Regions from separate parts of the Homo sapiens genome. Here regions 1, 2, 4 and 5 are each linked to region 3. Evidence: fine-mapped expression QTL. A gene starts in region 3. Each other region holds a variant in brackets. All regions are shown on one strand. Distances are between the middles of the regions.

Region 1 (5,000 bases), 80 kb after region 3:
CTTAAAATGCTTCCTTCTTTTTCTTTTAGCTACTGTTTCAGCTCATTATTGACTACTTAGCTGAGTTCAATTCCACACCAGCTGTCTTTACAATGATAACTGAGCAGTTGAAGAAGACCTACTTTAACATCCTCATCAAGCCCGAGACTTTGGCCAAGTGGGTATAAATGAGATGAGCTTATATTTTGAGGACCTGAAAGTATTACTCTCCCTAGTGGGTGGGTGTGGGGGTTAAGGCTATAGTTGCAGTGCTAATTTTCATCCGTGTTTGAATCGTGCTCTAGTTTAGGAGACCCGTGCATAGCGTTACGGTATTTCTAAACCCAGCTTATGTAGCTAGCTGTGAATGGGACTGAAAGCAGCTTACTGTAGAGACTAAAAGTAAGGAAGGGTGTTTTCACCAATCATTATACCTGAATGTTAAAGAAGTGCTAGTTTTAGGCCGGGCATGGTAGCTTATATCTGTAATCCCAGCACTTTGAGAAGCTGAGGTGGGAGGATCACAAGCCTAGAAGTTCAAGACTAGCCTGGGCAATATAGCAAGACTTCATCTCTACAAAAAATTAAAAAATTAGCTGGGTGTGGTGGCACATGCCTGTAGTCCCAGCTACTTGGCAGACTGAGGTGGGAGGATTGCTTGAGCCCAGGAGGTTGAGGCTGCAGTGAACCATGATCATGCCACCGCACACCAACCTGCATGACAGAGATAGACCCTGTCTCATAGAAAAACAAACAAAAAACAAACCAGAAGAAGTATTTACTGGTGATTTTAGTATGTTGGTGATTAGTAGCTGAGTTAAATTGCTAAACATGTCACTTATCTAGCAATCTTAACTATCCAGAATTCAGCCAAGCTTCCAGAAGAGAGCAGAAAGGCAGCTACACAGTCTGTATGCTAATACTTAAACCCTCTGCTCACAGGCAACCCCCTTGGGCCTTCATTCAGAGCCTGTTCTTACTACTTTAGTCCAGGGCTAATTGTAGCCTGTAGGATACTTTTGCGTGAATCAGAAAAAAGTATCCTTCTGAGGTACCCTCTATTAGCAGGTAGAGCCTTTGTGGGAGGGAGAGAAAAGTCCTCTGAACAGACCTACCCCTTTGTGCACATGACTGGCTAGCCCCTACTTGACAGTTTTGCCCTGGGCATCTATAAATAGTGAACAGCGTAAAGGTTCTGCTTTTGACACAGCTGTAATGAACCCATCAGTTTCCAGAATTAGAAAGAAGGGGTTAGGAATCAGTCATGTAATAACTGATATTCTGATCACAGAAAGTTACAAAAACTAATAACTAGATATATGTTAGAAAGGACATGGACACAGGGAGGGAACATCACACACCAGGGCCTGTTGGGGGGTGGGGGTGCTGGGGGAGGGATAGTGTTAGGAGAAATACCTAATGTAAATGACGAATTGATGGGTGCAGCAAAACTAACATGGTACATGTATACCTATGTAACAAACCTGCACATTGTGCACATGTACCCTAGAATTTAAAGTATAATAATAAAAAAAGGAGAGTTATCTGCAACCATTGATACGGTGAATAGCCCTGCCAATAACTCATGAATACTACTTTATTTATTTATAAAAATACATTATTAAACACAACCTTCTATTTTATTAAAATTCAACTCCTGAAATTTACTTTATAAAAGAATAATAATAAACCTGTTTGTTGAAGATTTTTGTGCTAGATCTAAGAACTGTTATATAAATTCATTAATTCAATTCTATCCAAAACGGTTACCTCTCACGAATACTTCCCCTGTTTTACAAATGAAGAAATTGAATCATAGATGTTAGTAGATTTGTCAAATTCAAACAGCTTATTTGGGGTGGGGTTGTGGAAATGGGGGATGAAGTTAATCTGATTCTGGACCAGAGCCGTTACCTGTATTATATTGTCACTGCAGTAATAGATATCCCAAATGATGGCTTCTAGTAATTAATGAAATATTAGTGAGATTTCAAACCAAAATAGTAATAATTTTAAATCAGTGTACAACTAAGTAAACTTGACTCATCTGGCAGCTTTACTTTTATGTGAAATATTTTACCCTGCAACTGAGACAGGTAAGTGCATTTTTGTACTGCTAAGTAAATTTGTTTAAAGTTTGTGTATGTGGTTTTCAGTACTTTTTTGGTTAATCTGATACTGTTTTCCCATCTTACATTGTGATAAAAATGGTCTCTCTTTAGAAACACATCCTTTATAGAACTTTGACCAAACATTTCTTTATTCTGAAGATTCATTTCTAATAACAAAACTTTGAGTGTTTTTTTTCTGCCCTCTGTACAGAGATGTACGGCTTTTAATC[T/C]TGGAATATGCCCGTTGGTCTATGATTGACAAGTACCAGGCTTTGATGGACGGCCTTTCCCTTGAGTCTCTGCTGAGCTTCGTCAAAGAATTCAAATCCCAGCTCTTTGTGGAGGGCCTGGTACAAGGGAATGTCACAAGCACAGTGAGTGTGAGATGCTCTGTAGGCCAGGTCTGAATGCAGTTGTGAACTCTGGAATTGCCATAGTTCTTTCCTAAAGGGGAAGCTGTAGTTTTGGCAGGCCAGCATTATCATATTCTGTTTAGAAGGGAACCTGACCCCTCTGATGCTGGGCAGCTTTCTTCTTAAGATGAAGACTGCTGGGCTGGGAATGATGGCTCACGCCTGTAATTTCAGCATTTTGGGAGGCCAAGGCAGAAGCATTACTTAAGGTCAGGATTTCGAGACCAGTCCAGGCAACACAGTGAGAACTCATCCCTACAAAAAATAAAAAATTAGCCAGGCATGGTGGCACATGCCTATAGTCTCCGCTACTTGGGAGGCTGAGGTGGAAGGATCATTTGAGCCCAGGAGTTTGGGGCTACAGCATGCTATGATTGCACCACAGTATTCCAGCCTGGGCAACAGAGTAAGACCCTGTCTCAAAAGAAAAGAAATAAAGAAAGAGAGAGAGAAAAATAGATTGCTGGTAATAGACTAGGATTTTGAGTGAAATGGGTTTGGCGTATCTATACTGTTTGTTACCTTTGTTGAAGATTGTATGTGGAAACCATGAACAGTTTAGTATAGAGGCTAAAATGGGAGGAAGGAAATGGTGAGGGATGTGTGTGCATACATACGGATACATACATAGATACATACATACATAGCCAGAACTAGTATGTCAAGCCTGTTTGTGAAGCTAAGGTGCTGGGCTTTATCCTGTAGAAATGGAGAACCATTAAAGGATTTAAGAAGATTTGTGGTTAAGAAATATCCAGAGAGACAAGTTATGAAGCTGTTTTAAAGTACAGATATGATTCCACTCATAGGAGTTATCTAAAGTAGTCAAATTCATAGAAGCAGAAAATATAATGGTGGTTTCCAGTAGTTGGGGAGAAGAGGGAAGAGACAAGTTATTTTATGGGTACAGAATTTTGGTTTTGCAAGATGAAAAAGTTCTGAAAATCTAATCTACTGCACAACAGTGTGAATATAGTTAACATTATTGAACTGTACCCCTTTTTTTTCTGAGACAGAGTCTCGCTCTGTCACCCAGGCTGGAGTCCAGTGGCGTGATCTTGGCCCAACTGCAACCTCCACCTCTTCGGTTCACGCCATTCTCCTGCCTCAGCCTCCCAAGTAGCTGGGACTACAGGCACCTGCCACCTCACCCAGCTAATTTTTTGTATTTTTAGCAGAGATGGGATTTCACCGTGTTGGCCAGGATGGTCTCGATCTCCTGACCTCGTGATCTGCCCACCTCGGCCTCCCAAAGTGCTGGGATTACAGGTGTGAGCCACCGTGCCTGGCCCTGAACTGCACACTTTTAAAAATGGTTGAGATTGGCCAGGCGCGGTGGCTCACGCCTGTAATCCCAGCACTTTGGGAGGCCGAGGTGGGCGGATCACAAGGTCAAGAGATCGAGACCAACCTGGCCAACATGGTGAAACCCCGTCTCTGCTAAAAATACAAAAATTAGCCGGGCTTGGTGGCACATGCCTGTAGTTCCAGCTACTCGGGAGGCTGAGGCAGGAGAATTGCTTGAATCCGGGAGGCGGAGGTTGCACTAAACTGAGACTGTGCCACTGCACTCCAGCCTGGGCGACAGAGTGAGACTCCTCGTCTAAAAAAAAAAAAAGTTGAGATTATAAACTTTATATTATTTTATCAAAATAAAAAGCTGGAGTGAAGGCTGTGCAAGGCGGCCCACGCCTGTAATCCCAGCACTTTGGGAGGCTGAGGCAGGCAGATTGCTTGAGGCCAGGGATTCAAGACCAGCCTGGCCAACATGGTGAAAACCTGTCTCTATTAAAAATGCAAAACTTAGCCAGGTGTGGTGGTGGGCATCTTGTAATCCCAGCTTCTTGGGAGGCTGAGGCAGAAGAATCACTTGAGCCTGGGAGGCAGAGGTTGCAGTGAGCCGAGATCACGCCACTGCACTCCAGCCTGGGTGACAGAGTGAGAGTCTGTCTCAAAAAAAAAAAAGAGTTGGGAGTGAAAAATATTGAAGCCTGATGTTAGGCCAAATAAATGAAAAATAATTGCTTAAGGCTGGACATGGTGGCTTATGCCTGTCATCCCAGTACTTTGGGAGGCTAAGGTGGCAGAATCGCTTGAGCTCAGTAGTTTGAGACCAGCCTGGGCAACATAGTGAGACACCACTTCCAAAAAAATTAAAAAAAATTAGCTGGGTGTAGCAATGCACACCTGTAATCTCAGCTACTTGGGGGCTGAGGTGGGAGGATTGCTTGAGCCCAGGAAGTGGAGGCTGCAGTGAGCTGAGGTCATGCCACTGCCCTCCAGCCTGGGCAATAAAGCAAGACCCTGGTGTTTTTTTTTGTTTGTTTAAAGAAGTGCTTAAGAAATAGAAGATGATGGAAATTCACTCAGTGGGAGTGAGAGAGAAGGCAGTCTAGAATGATGCCCAGATTTCTTTCTTGAAGCAGTGGGTTGGTGGAACAGGAACAGTAGTAAGAGTGGGAGCATATGAGGAGTTTGTTCTGATACGTATTTAGTT
Region 2 (5,000 bases), 35 kb after region 3:
TAAAATATCTTTGTATCTCTAGTTTTTCTCCTTTCCCCAGATATATACATTACCATTCCATTTGATTTGTGTACTTTTAGTTCTGTTGTTGTAACTTTATATGCATTTAATGGATACATGTTGTACACATAGCTTTCTTTTTTTTTTAAATTAGGTGTTAGATTTTGTCTCATTTTGTTTCATTAAGTAGATATTAAGTACCTACTATGTATCAGGTCCCCTCCAGGCGTTAACATTCTTTTGTTTATTCAATATCTGTTTATTAAATGTTTGGTATATATATGCCTGGTGTTGTCCCAGGATATAGCTGTGAAGGAAAGAAAAGCTCTGTCCTCAGAGATAACATTCTAATGGTGCAGGCAGAAAATAAAATCAAGTAATGATAAATGGTGCGAAGAAGGTTAAAGTAGGATAAAAGAGAATAGAAATGGGCGAAAGAGCTATTTTAGGTAGTGTGGTCAGAGAAGGCATTTCTGAAAACGGGACATTTCTTTTCTTTTCTTTTCTTTTTTTTGTGACGGAGTCTCGCTCTGTCGCCCAGGCTGGAGTGCTGTGGTGCAATCCTGGCTCACTGCAACCTCCGCCTCCCGGGTTCGAGTGATTCTCCTGCTTCAGCTTCCTGAGTAGCTGGGACTACAGGCGTATGCCACCACACAAGCTAATATTTGTATTCTTAATAGAGTCGGGTTTTCGCCATTGTTGGCCAGGCTGGTCTTTAACTCCCGACCTCAAGTGATCTGCCCGCCTTGGCCTTCCGAAGTGCTGGGATTACGGGTGTGAGCCACTGCGGCCGGGCCAAAAGGAGACATTTCATGAAAGACTTGAAAGAGGTAGAGCAGTCGGGCACATACTTTATCTGGGTCAAGGGCCCCTAAGGCCAACAGAACAGCAAGCACGAAGGCCCTGGACTGAGAGTCTGTTGGCAGTGTTTAGGAAACAACAATAAAGTCATTTGTTTAGAGCAAACAGAATGAAGGAAGAGTAGTGGGAAAGAAGGTTGGAGAGGTAAATGAGAACGAGATTATGTTGAGCATTGTATAGGCCATGGTAAGGATTTTGGATTTTAAGTATGATGGGAAGCCAATGATGAATTTTGAAAAGGGAAATGGCCTTGTATTAATTTGCTAAGGCTGCCATAACAAAATATCAAAGACAGAGTAGCTTAAATAACAGCTCTGGGGTCTAGAAGTTCAAGATCAAGCTGTCAGCCTATTTGGTTTCCTTCCTTCCTTCCTTCCTTCCTTCCTTCCTTCCTTCCTTCCTTCCTTCCTTCCTTCCTTCCTTCCTTCTTTCCTCCCTCCCTCCCCCCTCCTCCCCTTCCCCCCTCCCCCCTCCCTCCGTCCCTCCCTTCCGGAATTCCTTTCTTCCTGAGTCTTGCTCTGTCGCCCAGGCTGGAGTGCAGTGGCGCCATCTCGGCTCACTGCAGCCTTCGCCTCCCGGGTTCAAGCAATTCTGCCTCAGCCTCCCGAGTAGCTGAGACAGACTACAGGCACGCGCCGCCATGCCTGGCTAATTTTTTTGTATTTTTAGTAGAGACGGGGTTTCACCATGTTGGCCAGGATGGTCTTGATATCCTGACCTCATGATCCGTCCTCTTCGGCCCTATTCGGTTTCTTCTGAGGCCTTTCTGGCTTGCGGTTGGCCTTCTCCTTGGTATCTCCTCACATGGTCTTTTCTCTGTGTGCACACATATCTGGTGTACCATCGTGTTTCCAAATTTCTTCATTTTATAAGGATACCATTCAGATTGGATTCAGACCTACTTTAGAGGCCTGATGTTTAGCTTAATTACCTCTTTAAAGGCCCTGTCTCTAAATACAATCACATCCTGAGGTAGTAGGGTTTAAGGATTCAACATAGGATTTTGGGGGGAACACATTTCAGCCCATAGCAGGGCTCATTTGCTTTACTTAGCCTGCTGAGAATTGACTTGAGGTGTGTTGGGGCGTCGGGGGATGGTGGTGGTGGAGGCGAGTATAGCCAGGGTATTGAGGTTAGAATGGAAACAGAGAGTTAGGAGGAGATTAGACACGATGACAACATGCTCTAAGGAAATAGCTGTAGAGTTGATGAGAAGTTATCAGAATTGTGATTTATTTTGAAAGTAGAATGCATAGGATTATTTTGATAGTAGATTTTTAGATTTTTTCTGTTCTGTTTATGAAAAATTTAAGCTGGAAAAAAAATGCACCTTACAAAGACCAAGTAAAGTTCCCCTTCCCTGGCTTTTTTTTTTTTTCCCCCAACCTGAGTTGGTATCTGATACAGATATTGGGACTACCTCAAACTGCTTCTCTATGATTCTGCATCTCTGAGATTCATCTTAGAATTTATTTCTGGACAGATTGTTCATATTCTTGGAAAATAGCTCTTGGATTTTAACTTGTCCTGCTGTTGGGTTGTGTAAGGGAGGAAAATAATTTTTTTCAACCCTCATAAGTTATTATTTGGAATGGTCCCCTGTAACAAAAGAAAAACAAATATAAGTTTGTTAACATGTATAATTCATAAATACATGGGAGATACTCAGAATGAGTTGGCTTTTAATTCCTGCTTATATAGTATCTTCAACAAATGTTTAGCAAAGTGTCAAGACAAAGAAAAAGGACTTTGAGTCTGTAGGGGCAGCAACTTGTAGAAAGGCAAATAATGGCAGGCAAAGCATAATTAGTAAACTTGTTAATGTGGATTCCTTTGGTGTCGTATCCAGACCAATACAGGTGTAAAGTTGTATTTGGTGGTTAACTTGTGTTCTTCCACGGTAAACAGGGGTTGGGTTTTTTTTTTTTTTTTTTAACCTTTTTTGTCTTTGGAGTAAATTTATGTCTTGCTTTTAGGCAAGTGGATAGCAGAGAGCTTTCCTGCATCTGCTTTTTAATTGCCTTCAGTTCAACAATCCTTATGCCAAGGAGGCATATTTAGAGGTGGCATATTGCTGTCTACTTCTGGTGGTCTTGAACATTTTAATCCCTCTGTATCCTTACATGTTGCCCTGCCCTCCCACCCCAACAAGTAGTTAGCTTTTTTTTTTTTTTTTTTTTT[TG/G]AGACAGGTTTTTGCTCTGTTGCCCAGGCTGGAGTGCAGTGGCATGAACGTGGCTCACGGCAACTTCCATGTCCCGGGCTTAAGCCATCCTCCCACCTCAGCCTCTGGAGTAGCTGGGACCATAGATACACCATGCCTAGCTAATTTTTGTATTTTTTTTTGTAGAGATGGGGTTTTGCCATGTTACCCAGGCTGATCTTGAACTCCTGGACTCCAGCAATCTACCTGCCTCGGCTTCCCAAAGTGCGGGGATTATAGGCGCAAGCCACTGTGCCCTGCCCTGTTTTGCATTTTGTGTTTATCATTCTTTTGCTTAAAAAAAGTTGGATATATATGTATACCTAAATAATATACTGTTTACTTTTGCTTGTTTTTTGGCATTATGTGAATGGTACTCATATAGTATTTTTTTGTGATTTGCTTTTTTCACTCATGTTTTTAAGATTAACCACTGTCGTAGTTTGTTGCTGAATTCTGTATTTCCCTGTGTTACAATATTCCACTGTGAAGAAAATTTTCATTATATGAATATACCACAGTTTTTTTATTCTGCTGTCAGTAGACTTGGATTGCTTCCAGTTTACATAATTGAGCTTATTGCCCTGAGGCTCTCTTTGCTCTTATTTATTGATCTGAAGCTTAGACTTTTTCTAGGGTTTCCTGGGAAGAACCAATATCTTACTACATGTTTATAGGTCTGTGGTTTTCTCCATTAATCTGATCAAATTTGCATGTCTTCTAATGATTTCTAAAAATTTGTAATCTGCTAACAGTGTCCTTTCCTGTTTTCTGTCTGTCATGATTTTATTTTCAAAAACCAAAAAAAAAAAAACCAAACATTTTTTCTATCACTTAAATGTGATTATTTTTTATTATTTATTTATTAATTTTTGGGACAGGGTCTCATTTTTCACCCAGACTGGAGTAAAGTGGCCCGATCTGGGCTCGCTGCAGCCTGGACCTCCTGGGCTCAAATCATCCTCCCAACCTCAGCCTCCTAAGTAGATGGGACTACAGGCGCATGCCACCATGCCAGGCTAATTTTTTGTATTTTTTGTAGAAATGAGGTTTCGCTACGTTGCCTGCTGGTCTTGAACTCCTGAGCTCCAAATGTGATTATTTTATATGGAAAGTAGATAAATCCCAGTGTTCAGTCTTCCATCTTAGGCCAAAGGTTCTCTTCCTTGTCTTTCTTTGCATGTTATTCTTAGTTTTTGCTTGACTTTTTAAGTGTACCTTGTCTTAGACGCCTTCCCTGACTGCTTGTTTCTTACATTCTGTATTTATCTCTGTCATTCTGTATTATACTGGCTCATCTCATTATTAGACAGTGAATGCCTGATGATGAGGAATTTTGTTTTATCCTTTTTATCCTTAATGCAGCATGATATCTGATATGTAAAGGGTGCTAAATAAATGTTTATTGAATAAATACATGAAAAAATTAGTATAAATGGGGCTGAATGCGATGGCTTATGCCTGTAGTCCCAGCACTTTGTGGGGCCAAGATGGGTGGATTGCTTGAGCCCAGGAGTTCAAGACCAGCTTGGGTAACATGGCAAAACCCTGTCTCTAAAAAAATACAAAAATTAGCCAGGTATGGTGGCCTGTGCCTGTGATCCCAGCTACTCTGGAGACTGAGGTGGGAGGATTGCCTGAGCCCAGGTGGTCGAGGCTGCAGTGAGCTGAGATCGTGCCACTGCACTCTAGCCTACACAACAGAGTGAGACCTTGTCTCAAAGAAAAAGGAAAAAAAAAATTAGTGTAAATGGGAGTGGTCTGTAATAGATACCTAGTCATCAAACTGGCACAGTAGTTTTGCAGATAAGAATCAGGAGCTTGAGATGGTGGCACATGCCTGTAATCCCAGCCACTCAGGAGGCTGAGGTGAGCTGCTTGAGCCCAAGAGTTTAAAATCAGCCTGGGCAGTAAAGCAAACTCTGTCTCAAAAAAAGCA
Region 3 (5,200 bases):
ACTCCTTATCTTCCTATCCTATACAATTTGTCTTCATTGCATTTATTGTTTTTTGTATATGTGAGACAAAGTAGCAAACATAAGAAGCCATGTCTGCTCATTCTGTTTACCAGCAGAATTTCACAAACTCTCTTGCCAGCAGAATTTCACAGCCTCAGTGACTGCGCACAGCCCTCCAGAATACCCTGAAAATATGCAGGATAGAGCACAAGTTCCCATGTCTCTTGCCTGAATCACTGCATTTTTAGAAAAGATAAATCCAATGATGCTCGACCTTGCCTCTTCCTGTACATTTCTGACAGGATTAATGACTATGCCTCCATAATCTATAAACATGTGTACTCTTCCACCTAAACCTTCATGAGATTTTGCTCTAGTGTAACTCCTGAGTACATTTTTTCTTTTTTATTAGAGACAAGGTCTTGCTCTGTCACCAGGCTAGAGTGCAGAGGCACAATCATAGTTCACTGTAACCTCAAACTCAGGAGTCCCAGCAATCCTTTTAACTCTGCCTCTCCTGTAGCTAGGACTACAGGGATGTTCTACCACGCCTTGCTTTTTTATGTGTGTGTGGAGACAGAGTCTTGATATGTTACACAGGCTGGTTGTAAATGCCTGGCCTCAAGCAATCCTTCTGCCTCAGCCTCCTTAATCACTGGGATTACAGGCCCAGCCTTTCTGAGCACATTTGATTTAACTTCCAAGCACATGCAGAGCGGCCACCACCTGTATAGAAGCTGCGGGCTGAAACACTGCTTTGGAGCAGTCTAAAAAAAAAACTCTCTGACTCTCCCAGGTGGCAGTCCTCAATAAGACTTCTGAAGAAAGCTAACTTGAATTATTTAAAAGCCTGATTTACTTTAGTTTACATATTTTACAGTTCCTTCCCATTAGGATGCAAGCTCCCCCAAGGCAAGGCTTTAAATTTTTGTTGTCGTTGTTTAGACAGGGTCTCACTGTGTCAACCAGGCTGGAGTGCAGTGTTGCAATCACGGCTCACTGCAGCCTCGACCTCCTGGACTCAAGCGTTCCTCCTGCCTCAGCCTCCTGAGTAGCTGGGACCACATGCACGCATCACCAAGCCTGGCTAATTTTAAAAAAGAATTTTGTACAGACGGGGGTCTCACCATGTTGTCCAGGCTGGTACCAAATTCCCAGGCTCAAAGCAATCCTCCCGCTTCGGCCTCCCAAAGTACTAGGATTATAGGTGTGAGCTATCACTATCACGCCCAGCCTAAGGCAAGTTTTGTTTTGTTCATGGTTGTATTCCTTGCATTTGGAACTCAGAAGAGGCCTCGAAAACCTTGAAGATACAGTAACTATCAACACATCTCCCTGCTTCACGTCTTTCCCCGCTCATTCGTATGTATGAGCTATGATCTCTTACCCCATGGTGTCAGTATAGTGCATCTTACTAATTTCAGCTGCTTTTTAGCTTTCATTTATGTTTGTATTTCCGTCACATTTTACATTGCTAACCAAAGACCACTGCTAGCGGGAAAAACTGGGAAAGGAGACTTGAAGGCAGCAGACGCTGCAGCTGCTCGATAAAAATTGGCCGAATTTAACAGGAGGCTGGAGGAGCTAAAAAACGTTTTCACACAGAAGAGTTAGCACATCCAGACTGGTCTTTTTAGCACTTTCTTAGGGCTTGAGGATGAAACCCCACCACTGTCGGGCCGACTGTAGGGTAGAGAAGAGCCAATTAGTATTTGCGGCGCTCGGGAGCAGCGTCCATCCGGCGGGTGTAGGAAAATACTTCCGGCGTTCTGGTTTTTTATGTGCTGAGTCACAGCCGAAGGCTCGCCCCGGGTCTGAGGAGTAGGGTACCCAAACTATGACACGAATGGGAAAATTTAAAACTTTGGAATTAATTCTCTGCACTCGTTTCTCAGTTTTCTCATTAGGGGAATATTTTTCTTTGACACGCGGAGCACTACTCAGTGGTTTCCACAAAACACACTCGTACGTCATAAACGCGCCGGGGGCCCTTCTCCCGTCGTCCTCCGCGCCACTCTCTCCGCTTCTTCTCCCTCGCCCCGCCCACTTTGGGTTTCGAAATGTTCGCTGGCTGTTCCGAGAATCAGTCCGGGTCACGTTGGTGCCTCTCCTTTCCTGTTCTGATTGGTTGCTTACGTGAGCGTGACTACTTTCTTGCCTCATGATTGGCTGAAATCAGTAGCGTCATCGGCGGCCGGGAGGGCGGAGGGACGAGGGAAGTCGGCGAGAGGGAGACTGGGTTGGGGGAGGGGTTCAGGCCTGTTCCCCGCGGCTGCGGCAGCACCAGGGCCGGCCGCCACCGCCTCTAGAACGCGGAGGAGGTGGGTCCTGGGAAGCGGGATGTCCATCGCTCCAGCTTGGTGGTGAATGCTGAGGAGAGTCACTGTTGCTGCAGTCTGTGCCACCCGGAGGAAGTTGTGTGAGGCCGGGCGGGAGCTCGCGGCGCTCTGGGGAATCGAAACGCGGGGTCGGTGCGAAGACTCTGCTGCTGCCAGACCCTTTCCTATTCTGGCCATGCCTGGAAGGAACAAGGCGAAGTCTACCTGCAGCTGCCCTGACCTGCAGCCCAATGGACAGGATCTGGGCGAGAACAGCCGGGTTGCCCGTCTAGGAGCGGATGAATCTGAGGAAGAGGGACGGAGGGGGTCTCTCAGTAATGCTGGGGACCCTGAGATCGTCAAGTCTCCCAGCGACCCCAAGCAATACCGGTGAGGGAGGAGGCTTGCAATGGGGAGGCGAACAGTGTGCCGGCTTCTCTGTCGGTGCCGCCGTCACTTCTTGTCTCCATGTCTCCCAATGGAGCAACAGGGCACACTTTCCACCCCAAATGCTTCCTTGGGTGGAGGTGGCAAGCGTGATTAGAGGCTTCCCTGTGGTGTCAGCTGGGCAAGTGGGAGATCTTGGGTTGTAAGACGTCAGAATGGGAGAAGCTTTTCGAGTCATTTGAATACAGTCGCTAAAGCAAGAATGAAGGTTTCTTTGAGGAACGCAGCCTGAATGGTGAGGGAGTCTTGGTATTATGTTACCAGGAAAGGTTGACGGAGTTGGATACTTTAATTTGGAGGACAGGATATTTAAGGGGCATATTATCACTATCCAAAATATTTGAGGGACACTTAAGTGATAGGTGAAACTAGTGGACGAAAGTTACCAGAGGATGGTGTGGCTTCAGTAAAGTAACTTTGCATCATATTTGGCCTAAGTTGAAGTGACTTGTTTCCATGGGTAGTTCTCCATTACCAAAACGGTTGGGCGACCTCGTCCAGGAATATATTAGAGAGGGCTTAGGTCTCAGTTGGGTGAGTTGTAAGGTTTCTTCTAACCTTGAAATTCTCTACTTTTGGTTTGTACAGGAGTTCTCTAAACATTTCTAATAATTGGTGATTCAGTCCCCACCTGAGTATTTTCCTTCAGAGGTAGCTTATTTCATGGAGTATCATGACTATGATGTATCTTGCGTGTGTGTGTGTGCGTGTGTGTTTTAATAAGAGTCTGGGTCTTGCGATGTTGCCCAGGCTAATTTCAAACTCCTGGGCTTAGGGAATCCTCCTGTCTTGGCCTCCCAAAGTACTGGGATTACAGGCGTGAGCCACTGTGCCAGGCCTGGACTTTGATGTATTTTAAATAGAGTTCATATTGTCCAATAACTTCGTTGAACAGGTTGAGGAAATTGAGACCCAAAGAGTTTGCTTCTTGCTCTGAATCACACAGCTAAATAATAACAGAGCTGGTATGATGACCCCTACTATCTGACACCAAATTCAGTGTATCATTTGCTGATTTCCTTTTTTTTTTTGAAACGGAGTCTTGCTGTGTCACCAGGCTGGAGTGCAGTGGCGCGATCTTGGCTCACTGCAACCTCCGCCTCCCGGGTTCAAGCGATTCTCCTGCCTCAGCCTCCCCAGTAGCTGGGACTACAGGTGCTCGCCACCACGCCCGGCTAATTTTTTGTATTTTTAGTGGAGACGGGGTTTCACCATATTGGCCAGGATGGTTTCGATCTCTTGACCTTGTGATCCGCCCGCCTCTTCTCCCAAAGTGCTGGGGTTACAGGCGTGAGCCACCCCGCCCAGCCCGTTTGCCGATTTTTTACAAATTTCTTGCTTATGTGAATTGAAAGCTGAAGGATTCTAGTTCTAAATTTGTTATAAGCCCCTACAGCGTTAGCGCAAGAAACAACCTTATAGATAATCTTTTCCACTTCCCACCACACCTCTTTGACAGATGACACTTAGCTCCAAGTTCAGGACCAACCTAATTTCTCCTTTCACTTCAAGTCTAGATATATTTTCTCCAGGCTGCCAGAGTCAAGAGATCTTTATAAATGAGCTAAATTTTCTTTCTCATCAAAGATGTGATTGTACAGGTTGAGTATCCCTAATCCAAAAATCCAGAATGCTCGGAAATCCAAAACTTTATGAGCGCCAACATGACACCACAAGTGAAAAATTCCACACTTGGCACCTTTGCTTTTTGATGGTTGGTTCATGTACACAAACTTTGTTTCATGCACAAAATTATTAAAAATATTGTATAAAATTATCTTCAGGTTATGTGTATAAGGTATATATGAACCATAAATGAATTTTGTATTTATACTGCATCCCATCCCCAAGATACCTCATTACGTATACGCAAATATTCCAAAATCCAAAAAAATCCAAAATTTGAAATACTTTTGGTCCCGAGTGTTTCGGATAAAGGATACTCAACCTGTATTGGCAATGTATAAATGAGCAAGTTGAAAACTTGATAAAAGGTGCTTAGTTTTTGCCTTCCAGATCAAATGTTCAATAATGGTTTCAGGGTTTTTTCCAGCCTATATAAAGTTATATAATAACTAATATTTATGGAATCTACACTGTGTTTCAGCTACTGTTGTAACTGTTTTAGATGTGTTATTTCATTTACTGACCTCATTTTTGGTAAATTTGTTTGATAAATACCTGTTAAGTCCTACTGTGTGCTAGGCACCAAGCTAGATTAAATATTTTCTGAAACTTGGTCAAATATAATGTAATAAATAACATGTTAGTCTGGGTGAATATACAAAAATGATTGAGCCAGTACCTGCCTTTAGGGAGCTTACAATAGTAGAGAGGGACACAGACACATAAAAAAAAAAATTAGAGACTGTTGTGGTGGCTCATGCCTGTAATCCCAGCACTTGGGGGGCCGTGTTGGGAGGATCACTTGAGCG
Region 4 (5,000 bases), 25 kb after region 3:
ACCTAGAAATGAAATTACTGAATGAAAAGTATTCAGAGTTTCCATTAAAAATAAAAATGGCTGTATTTCCCTACAAGAATGTGATACCATTTGAGATTCATCAGAAATGTGTGAGAATAATCTGTCCACTTATCAGCACTGGATAGCAATTGTTTTTATTTTTTGTTTAGTTAATTTGTTGGATGAAAAATATTTCATTAAGTTGATTGTCTTTTATTTCTAGTGAGATTGCGCATCATTTTATTTGACATCTTGTGTTCTTGTAATGTGTGTAGTATATATTATTATTATCATTATTATTTTTTTTTGACACAGAGTCTCCATCTGTCACCCATGCTGGAGTGCCATGGCGCAATCTTGGCTCACTGCAACCTCTTCCTCCCTGGCTCAAGTGATCCTCCAGCCTCAGACACCTGAGTAGCTGGGATTACAGGGGTGCGTCACCATACCTAGCTACTTTTTTTTGTATTTTTTGTAGAGACAGGGTTTTGCCATGTTGGCCAGGCTGTATAGCACATATTTTTAAGCTTATTTTTTAATAGGGTTTTTTTCTCTTAATGATTTGAAGGAACTCTTACATGTTGTTAGTTTTTCCTCCCAGTATGCAATTTGCTGTTTGATTTTGTTTATGATATTGTTTTATAAAAACTTAAAATTAGTATACAGTGAACTCTTTTCATTTTTTTTTTCTTTATAAGGGCTTGGATTTTTTATCTTGTTTGGTACAAATTTTCTTCACCCAAATATTATACCAATTTTTTTTTCTTAAATAAAAACATTCTTTCCTTTTAGCTCTGTTATAGAACTGAACTTGGGTCTGCTCGCCTGGCACAATAAGGACATAACCACACTGAGGTTTTGCAGCAGTAGAAAGGAAGGCATTTATTTTCAGGATGCTACGCAAAGAGGACCAGGTAGCTAATGCTTAAATCCTGACCTCCCCGATGATTTGCAGGTAAGGGTTTTTAAAGGCAGTGGTAAATTTCTGGATAGCAGAAGTTACAGACAAAATCATAAACCATACATGGAGGGTTACACACTGATTTTGGCCTAAAAGGTTGGGATATCTTGAAGCAGTGGTGTATAGGTCATAGGTACAGTAGAAGATTTTCTGATTTGCAGTTGGTTAAGGAGGCAAAGCTTTTTCTAAAAATTTGAGATCAGCAGAAAAGAATGTTAGCACTGGCTCATGGGTATAACCTTCTCCAGGCCCCTCAGAAAGAAATTTAGAACAAAGAAGGGGAGTCAGAGTTCAGTCCCCAGTTCCTCTCTATATGAGGTTGCTGTGCTGGCAGATCCTTTTGGTGTGGGCACAGGTTTCTGAAAAACAACTGGAGACATGTTAAGGTATTATCTTTAGTTTTTATAGGGAAGCAAACATTCTTGTGACTCTTAACTTCCTTGGCTATTTTTGTTGTTGTTAGAGATGGGGTCTCGCTATGTTGCCCAGACTGGTCTTGAACTCCTGGCCTCAAGTGATCCTCCCACCTTGGCCTCCCAAAGAGTTGGGATTACAGGTGTCAGCCACCATGCTGGGCCAGCTTGGCTGTTGTTACTGTTACCTGCTTGTTTATCAAGTTGCACATTTATTTTTCAGGGCTAGCTAGGTGCCTGAAGTTTCCTTTGAAATAACTGAAGATTTTCCTTTTTTCTATGCTTGGGGTCCCTGCGTCATCTCAATTCCCCATCTTTTGTCACCCATCAATCTTGTGGGGTACTGGGGTGCAGACTGCTCTGCCTACTTCCTGTTGAATTGGGGCAAAGATTGAGGACTAGGATATGAGGATATTAAGTTTCTTTTCTTTATTTTTTTGAGATGGCATCTTGCTCTGTCGCCCAGGCTGGAGTGCAGTGGCATGATCTCGGCTCACTGTAACCTCTGCCTCCTGGGTTCAAGCGATTCTTCTGCCTCAGCCTCCTGAGTAGCTGGGACTACAGGTGTGCACCTCTACGCCTGGCTATTTTTTGTATTTTTAGTAGAGACAGAGTTTCCTCATATTAGCCAGGCTGGTCTCAAACTCCTGACCTCGTGATCCACCCGCCTCGGCCTCCCAAAGTGCTGGGATTACAGGTGTGAGCCACCGCCCCTGGCTGAGGATAGTAAGTTCCTAGCACGGAATTCAAGGTATCCATGAGTCCCAGGCATGGCACCATGGTGCTGAACTGTCATTATTTGTATTAGTCACTGCTTTATTACATTTTAACACACATTTGGTTATGATATAAAGCACAAGAAAAATTAGCAAGATTGATATGCATAACTTTAGCAATCCAGAAAACATGGATTTTATTCCATGAGGAATCCAAGAAAAGAAAGAAGAAAACCAGTCCTTAGGGACAGTCAGGGAGATCTGTTGTAACCAAGTGACTTGTTCTCTAATTTATTTTAGATGAGTTTCTACCTCAGCAGATTCATTTATATAAGTATTGCATGTGGGATTTGCAACCATACACACTCCTCCCTGCTTGGCTAAGATGTAATCTAAGGCTATCCTATTATCTAAGACACCTGAGCCAATGAATTAATTCTTTTCTGCTAGACAGCTATTGCTGCTGAAGTTTCCTTAGCAAGAATTCCTAAAGAGAGAGATTTCTAATCATGTGCTCATAGGATGCCACTCCCCACCAAGGTAACAAAGTCCATCCAAAGAAATAACCCGCATCCATCTTTTTAGTACCTGGGCAAGAATAGATTTGTGGATCCCAAAGTGAGTATGTGGACTTGTTTACTTTTAATGAGTTAATTTACTTGCAGCTAAGATACGGGATTTCTGACATGTTTAGAGAGCAGACTTCTAAGGAGGGAGCAGGGCTCTTGCTCCTCTCAAGAGGCAAAATCAAGTAAGCCTTTTATATAGAGGCAGAGTCTCATTATTTCTGGCAAATTTGTTTGAAGCTTCAAGTGAAGGGACTTCCAAAATAAAGGAATTCTTTTATATAATATATATATATAT[A/T]TTTTTTTTTGGAGACAGTCTCCCTCTGTCACCCAGGCTGGAGTGCCATGTCTTGGCTCACTGCAACCTCCGCCTCCCAGGTTCAAGCGATTCTCCTGCCTCAGCCTTCCGAGTAGCTGAGATTACAGGCACACGCCACCACATCTGGCTAATTTTTTTGTATTTTTAGTAGAGACAGGGTTTCACCATGTTGGTCAGGCTGGTCTCGAACTCCTGACACCATGATCTACCCGCCTCGGCCTCCCAAAGTGCTGGGATTATAGGCATGAGCCACCGTGCCTGGCCAGGAATTCTTTTATGTAATATTCTGAAAGGGGCCCTCAGATTATGATGATTGAAGGAACTTGAGTATCATTGTTCTATTAGCTGGGTCAGATGATATATCTATAGGTTACCTGTCTTTGTCAACGTCTCAGAAATTCTAATTATAAAATTGCCCTTTTAATTTGGGAGGATGAAAGTCCACAAGGAAGCATAACAAAAAGGCAATTATATTTATAGTTCAGTGTGATCACCTGAAGTAATTAAGACTCCAGGGCAGCACACAGAATTTGCTAAGCCAGTAGTAGACAGAGAAAATAAGAAAAGTGGCCGGGCATGGAGGCTCACATAAAAAACTATAAAAAACTATATATAAAACTATTAAAAAAACTATAAATATATAAAACTATTAAAACTATATATATAAACTATAGTTTAAAACTATATAAATATAGTTTTAAGGCCTCATATACATGTTATATATAATGTATATATAGTTATAGTTATATAATTTTATATATATAGTTATATATACATACACAAATATGGCCTAAATATTAGTTTTAATTAGACTTTTGAGTATAGAGTTCTTAAAAAAATATCCTTTCAAATCTCTTACTATCAGATTTTTAGCTGGGACAAACAGTTGATATTTCTGGCTTTTGAACTCTTTTCACCCCAAAGATATTCTCCCCCATGAAACTAAGAAGCGTTAGCCAGGGTTATGACTTCAACAAGGACACATGAGGTCTCGAAAGAGGTGGAAAGCAGTTTTCACAAGATTCAGAGCTGCCCCAAAGACAGCTTAAAGAGAGGAAAATTTCGTCAGCCATAAATGGAGTACAGACCACATTTCTGTTTGGCCATATTCTCTAGAGCCTCAGTTTCTCAGCTGACCATTCACACACACAACGTGTACCAAAAAGCATACCAAAAAACCTGTAGGCTGCCCCCCTCACAGATGGAGGACAGGAAATCAAAAGCTGCCCATAGAAGGAAAAAGGAACGATAAATGGCAAAAGTCACACAAATATTAAACCAAAAAATGATGTGTTCCTTGGCTGGGAATTCAACCCAGGCAGCCTCAGTGCTTTACCACTGCTGTTCCTGGAGGGGATCTAAAGCAGGCAGTTTTGAGCTTGCAAAGGATTTTAACCTTGTTTTAGGTGAGATATTTGTTCTTTAATTTAGTCAAGTGAATTCTCAAGGCTAGTCATGACACTATTAAGTGTCCTTTGTAAAATTTGTTTAGAAAATAACTTTTTTTTGTAAAAGCAATTGTTTAGAGAGATGCCTGAGATTATTTTAAAATTTAGGGGTCCAGTTTAAAGGTTCCCCTTTTCAGGCTTTTTTCTGGAGTCTTAAAAAATACTGTGGCCAAGCACTACTGCAATTAAAAAAAAATCATTTTTTTTTTTTCCTTGGGCCCAAATCTAAAAATGGCCCAATTCTGCAGAATACACCCTAATGGGCTACAAAGGAAATAGAACTTGTGTTTCTCAAATGAAACAAAACCCTGGACAAGGCATTAAAGGTTTGTCGCAAAACCTAGGTGACAAACCTTTAATGCCTTGGCCAGGTGTTAAGTATTAAATAGATTTTCAAGCAAGTAAATCACAATCAAATTGTGATTTTTCAAGGTTTCAGTCTTCAGCTCTGGGATATCTCCCACCAAGTGCATTCTGATGAAGTAGAGCCCAATACCTTGCTGAAGCAAGGCTGGATTTCCTGCTGAAAGGAAAAATACTATGGGGCTATCACACATCAACCCCCCACTTACCAAAA
Region 5 (5,000 bases), 52 kb after region 3:
AGGGCATGATGGTACATGCCTGTAGCCTCAGCTACTTGGGATGCTGAGGTGGGAGGATCACCTGAGCCTGGGGAGTTCAAGGCTCCAGTGAGCCGTGATGTGCCACTACACACTCCAGTCTGGGTGACAGAATTAAATAAAATTAGTTTCATTATTTAAGTCAACAGAAATTATCCAACCCATCATTAATCATACCAAGTACTGAAAAGAAAAAAAATGCCCCAATATATCTAGCAGGTAGTTAAGTTAAAAGTTACCTTATTGCAAGCAAAAGTTAAAAGTTTTTTAAAGAAGCCTGAGCAATATAGGGAGACCCTGTCTCTATAAAAAATTTAAAGATTTAAAAAAAAATGGTAGTGCACACCTCTAGTCTCAGCTACTTCGGAGGTTGAGGCAGGAGGATTGCTTGAACCCGGCAGTTTGAGGCCGCAGTGAGCAGTGATTGTGCCACTGCATTCTAGCCTGAGTGATAGAGTGAGACACTATATCCAAAAAAAAAAAAAAAAAGTTTACTAAACATTTTAGGAAATTAATTTTTTAAATCATTCTATTTTGCTGGAAAAACACCAATACACCAATCTTTGAATAATTTTTAACAATTTAATTGCATTGCTATTATGTATTTATATAAGTGGTAATTTGTATATGTAATTTGATACATCACAGTTTATATAATTAAAAATTAATTTAAAAAGCAGATGAAATTATAAGATTAACTTAAATACCAAGTCTTTAAAATTCTAATTTAACTTTTAACTGAAACGTTTTTAGTCATCTGTAAACTTGCATTGAACTAAAAAAGTAAGCTTTATATACTCTATAAAAACATGGATATACATAACATTACATAAATAGACTATCTGTGATATTACAATTTTACAAAGGAATGAATAGGAGAACATTTCCGAAAAGGCTCCTAAGGGTTGAAAATGGAAATAAAAAGGGTTGATAAACATTGGGTTAGAAATAGGTATATAGGTAATAAAACTATAAAGAAAAGGAGAGAAATTACTGCTATACATTCAGGATATTTCTTGAGGTAAGGGTAGGAGCTGGGTGCTTCTAGAGTGTTGACTATGGTCTGTTTCTTCACCTGGGTGGGCCACTCAGGTGTAGTTTATATGTTCATGTTTTGTTAACTTTTCTGTATGATTGTTATTAAATATATTTCACAATGAAAAAGTTAAAGTAACATGTAGATATTAGTTTAAAATATAGAAATGCAGATTATTTAGATTTTATATACTTAGGATTGTGAATTAAATCTCCAACTTAGTAAGTTTCTTAATTAAAATAATAGATGTTGATTGATGAAAGTGAACAAAAACGGAAATGCCAGTTTTGTTTTTTGTTCAGATGGGCGCAGTTCTTCATCCACCCACTAATGATCAGAGATGCAATTGACCGTGAAGTTGAAGCTGTTGATAGTGGTAAGAGGAGTACTTTATGTGTAACTACAGTTTTTTCCTTCATGAAACCAGTTACTTATTACATTTATCCTTCTTTATCTCTAGACCATTTTATCTTTATATTTTAAAGGACTAAATTGAAATATGTGTTATGTTTGTTCCTGAAGTCATTAAACATCTAATTCAGTGTAGATTTGAAGTAAATGAAAAGGATGGTGGATTTTAGTTTTTTCATCCTTTGTTTTTCGAAGGTTTTACCATAGGGGCTAATCTTTTGAGATTCAAAGATTGAAGACTATAAAGGAAAAGAATGTGCTTATATAGGGTGAGGCTTCATTATAGATCTGTGCTATAAATATTCCTTAATTACATAGTACCAATAAATATCACCATTGTATATTATCCCTGCTTGATTTATTTAAGTATTAGAAGCATTTAATACTAGACTTGAGGGGACTTCCAGTTCATATAGGTTAGGCTTGGCTTATAGCCACTGCAAGTCTCTGTATTTGTTCCACTTTTTGTAGTATTTCCCTCCTTGGTTTGATGCAGTGTCTAGTTCTAATAATGATGTAAAGCATTTACTAGGCTGAGTAAACTACAGATGGCTAGAGTGATCTATCTGGAAGTCAACAGACCCCTGTTTAACTTACAGAAGTGTCTAGCTGTGGCATTCAGTTTATTTGTAAAAAAGGATGGAATGGTTAAGCTCCTCCTAGCTGTAGTAGCTCCTTGGAAATCAAGGATTTATTTTCTTTATTTTTTTACTTGCCTACCACAGTGTCTGTTTTACCTTAAACCCAGTTAAATACCTGTTGAATGGATGAAAAAACAAAACAACTAAGGATAACTAAAAGCACTTTTCATATTTTGAGACTCAAGAACTGTTATCTGTGTCTTAAATGCTTTCTA[G/A]TATGTTTTTCTTTATACAGTTTCTAGAGTGGGTTGACACCAGTGTTTAAACAAGCAGACCTTTAATTAGATTTTACAATTTTAAGCCAGAATATATTTTATTATGCTTTGAAAAATTATGCTGAAAGAAATATATATGTATATACACACACAGTATGGAGTTTTGGTTTATGCTGAACTAAAGTAAAAATTCTGTTGTGCTTTTGTTCATGATCTGCCTGCTTCGGCCTCCCAGAGTGCTGGGATTACAGGTGTGAGCCACTGCGCCCGGCTGATAAATTATTTTTAATAATTGACTTTTTATTTTAATGATGGTTTATACTCACATAAACATATATAATTGCCTGCATAGTATGTCTTAGTGATTGAGATGAAAGGCATGTCCAATGCCTTTTTAAATCTTAATTATGTGTCAAAGTGCAGTCTCTATTTTTATTTACTTACTTCTTCATTTTTAATGTTTGTTTCCTTTCCAAATATGGTCTCTAAGTGTTCAGATATTTATACTCTATTTTTATCAGTTGCAAGGGGTCTTAAATCACTTTTCGTAGATATGTTTACATGTCTGCTATATTACCTGTTATTGCAGAAACATGGTGGCTTAAAATAAAACATTTATTTTCTTACAGTTTTGGAGGAATGGAATCAGGTACGTTAGATAACTTCCTCAAGGTTGTTGAGCTTAGTGTCAGAACTGCAGTTCTAGCGGTTTTTAGTCCATTTGGGCTGCCATAATGGAATCCCACAGACCGGGTGGCTTATAAACCACAGAATTGTTTCTTACAGTTTTGGAGGCTGAGAAGTCCAAGATCAAAGAACTGGCAGATTTGGTGTCTGGTGACAGCCTGCTCTCTGGTTCATAGAAAACTGCCTTCACTCTTTGTCCTCATACAGCAGAAGGGGCAAGGGAGCACTCTGAGGTCTCTTTTACAAGGGACTAATCCATTCATGAGGGCTCTGCCCTCATTACCTAATCATTTCTCATTGGCCCCTACCTCCAAATACCATCACATTGGGGATTAAGTTTCAACATAGAAATTTTGGGTGGGGGGACACAAACATTCAGTCTTTAGCGGTAGCTAAAGGTATTTCTGACTTCAAAGTGGATTGTTCTTAGCCATCATACTTTATTACCAACATAGTTGGTTTTGGAAGAAATTTAAACAATATATATGACCAAATTCCCAGATAAAAGGATTAATATTTTATTAGCATTTTCATCAGTAAAATCTTGTACATAGCATCCTAGAGCTGAAACTTTCAGATTATTAACTACCTTGTGTTTCATTTGAAAAATAAGAGTAAGACTCTGGTAAGCTGAATTGATTTACCCAAAATTACAGGTCATATTAAGTCATAGAGCCAGGCCTGGATCATTGAGTTTCCCACTTCAGTCTTATAACACGTGATTCATGAAGTTAATTTTGTTAATTCCTTGCTTTCTGTTCTGTAAGTTTGAATTTCCATATAATAAAGGAGATACTGAATTTTGTTTTATTATGTGTTTATTTAAAATTGACAGAATATCAACTTGCAAGGCCTTCTGATGCAAACAGAAAGGAAATGTTGTTTGGAAGCCTTGCTAGACCTGGACATCCTATGGGAAAATTTTTTTGGGGTAAGATACTAAATACATCATCTTATTTCATATTTTCTAGTTAAGATTTAGAATAAGAAAAGTTGATAAAGAATTGAAAATTATAAAGCTAGAGTCCCTAGGTACCTTTTACCTTTTAGGATAGCTAGTTAGCCTTTCAAACGCGAAGTTGTTAAATATGCCTCTATTTGGTTCTCTAACAGTGAATATAGCAAGAGTAACACCTAACATTTTGTGAATGCTTTTTAAGTGCCAGATACTGTGCTAACACTACATGAATTATTTCATTTGATCATTATCACAATGTTCAGAGATAGGTACCATTATCATCTCCATTTAAAGATAAACAGGTTTAGGCCAGGCGTGGTGGTTCACACCTGTAATCCCAATGCTTTGGGAGGCTGAGGTGGGAGAATCACTTGAGACCAGTTCAAAACCAGCCTTGGCAACATAGTGAGACCCCATCTCTATTTTAAATTTCAGTCAAGTTATCTCATTTGTTTAAATCACACAGATAGTAAGTGGTGGATGTGAGATTTGAACATCTGTTTATCTGATTATAAAGTCTGTGCTCTACCTCAGCCTGACATTTCCATTTGTCAACAGAGTTAGCAATAGTTTCTGTAAGAGTTTTTGAACTGCGACTTAATTTTGTTCATCTAGTAAACTGTTTAACTGGTGTCTGTTTTTCATAATGGCATTTTCTTAGTGGGAGGATTTAGTTACAGCCTCATATTAATCCTGTTGACTATAGAGTAAAATTTAGGATGAGATGATCTGAATTATTCTTTAAAGGGTGTTTTGTTTCCCTGTATATTTCTGTACAGTTATATACATTTTATAGGGCATTCTTGCTTCATGTGTTTTATTTTTAAGAATTAGATAGCCGGGCGCGGTGGCTCACGCCTGTAATCCCAGCACTTTGGGAGGCCGAGGCGGGTGGATCATGAGGTCAGGAGTTTGAGACCAGCCTGGCCAAGATGGTGAAACCCCGTCTCTACTGAAAATACAAAAATTAGCTGGGTGTGGTGGCTCATGCCTGTAGTCCCAGCTACTTGGGATGCTGAGGCAGGAGAATCGCT

What was found.
Region 1: its variant is fine-mapped to the expression of NRDC in whole blood (TOPMed, PIP above 0.99).
Region 2: its variant is fine-mapped to the expression of NRDC in whole blood (INTERVAL, PIP above 0.99).
Region 4: its variant is fine-mapped to the expression of NRDC in T cells (TOPMed, PIP 0.98).
Region 5: its variant is fine-mapped to the expression of NRDC in whole blood (TOPMed, PIP above 0.99). The same link has a PIP of 0.9 or more in lung, tibial artery and tibial nerve.

The regions. Positions count from the first base shown.
Region 1 is chr1:51,795,713-51,800,712 of GRCh38, reverse strand. It overlaps NRDC (nardilysin convertase), which reads left to right. Exons shown (of 31, transcript NM_001101662.2): 21 at 30-157; 22 at 2,302-2,464. Among named protein-coding and RNA genes, the nearest start is that of MIR761, 38 kb to the left of the region's middle. The variant T/C (reference allele first, on the strand shown) is at 2,321.
Region 2 is chr1:51,841,107-51,846,106 of GRCh38, reverse strand. All of the region lies in intron 1 of NRDC (nardilysin convertase), which reads left to right. Among named protein-coding and RNA genes, the nearest start is that of MIR761, 7.2 kb to the right of the region's middle. The variant TG/G (reference allele first, on the strand shown) is at 3,043.
Region 3 is chr1:51,875,783-51,880,982 of GRCh38, reverse strand. It overlaps NRDC (nardilysin convertase), which reads left to right and starts at 2,256. Exons shown (of 31, transcript NM_001101662.2): 1 at 2,256-2,708. The coding sequence starts at 2,368. RefSeq lists silencers at 14-211, 2,169-2,218 and enhancers at 965-1,518, 1,909-2,088, 1,972-2,266, 3,935-4,466.
Region 4 is chr1:51,851,181-51,856,180 of GRCh38, reverse strand. The region is part of intron 1 of NRDC (nardilysin convertase); the gene reads left to right. Among named protein-coding and RNA genes, the nearest start is that of MIR761, 17 kb to the right of the region's middle. The variant A/T (reference allele first, on the strand shown) is at 2,955.
Region 5 is chr1:51,824,226-51,829,225 of GRCh38, reverse strand. NRDC (nardilysin convertase) reads left to right here. Exons shown (of 31, transcript NM_001101662.2): 5 at 1,357-1,430; 6 at 3,844-3,939. Among named protein-coding and RNA genes, the nearest start is that of MIR761, 9.7 kb to the left of the region's middle. The variant G/A (reference allele first, on the strand shown) is at 2,322.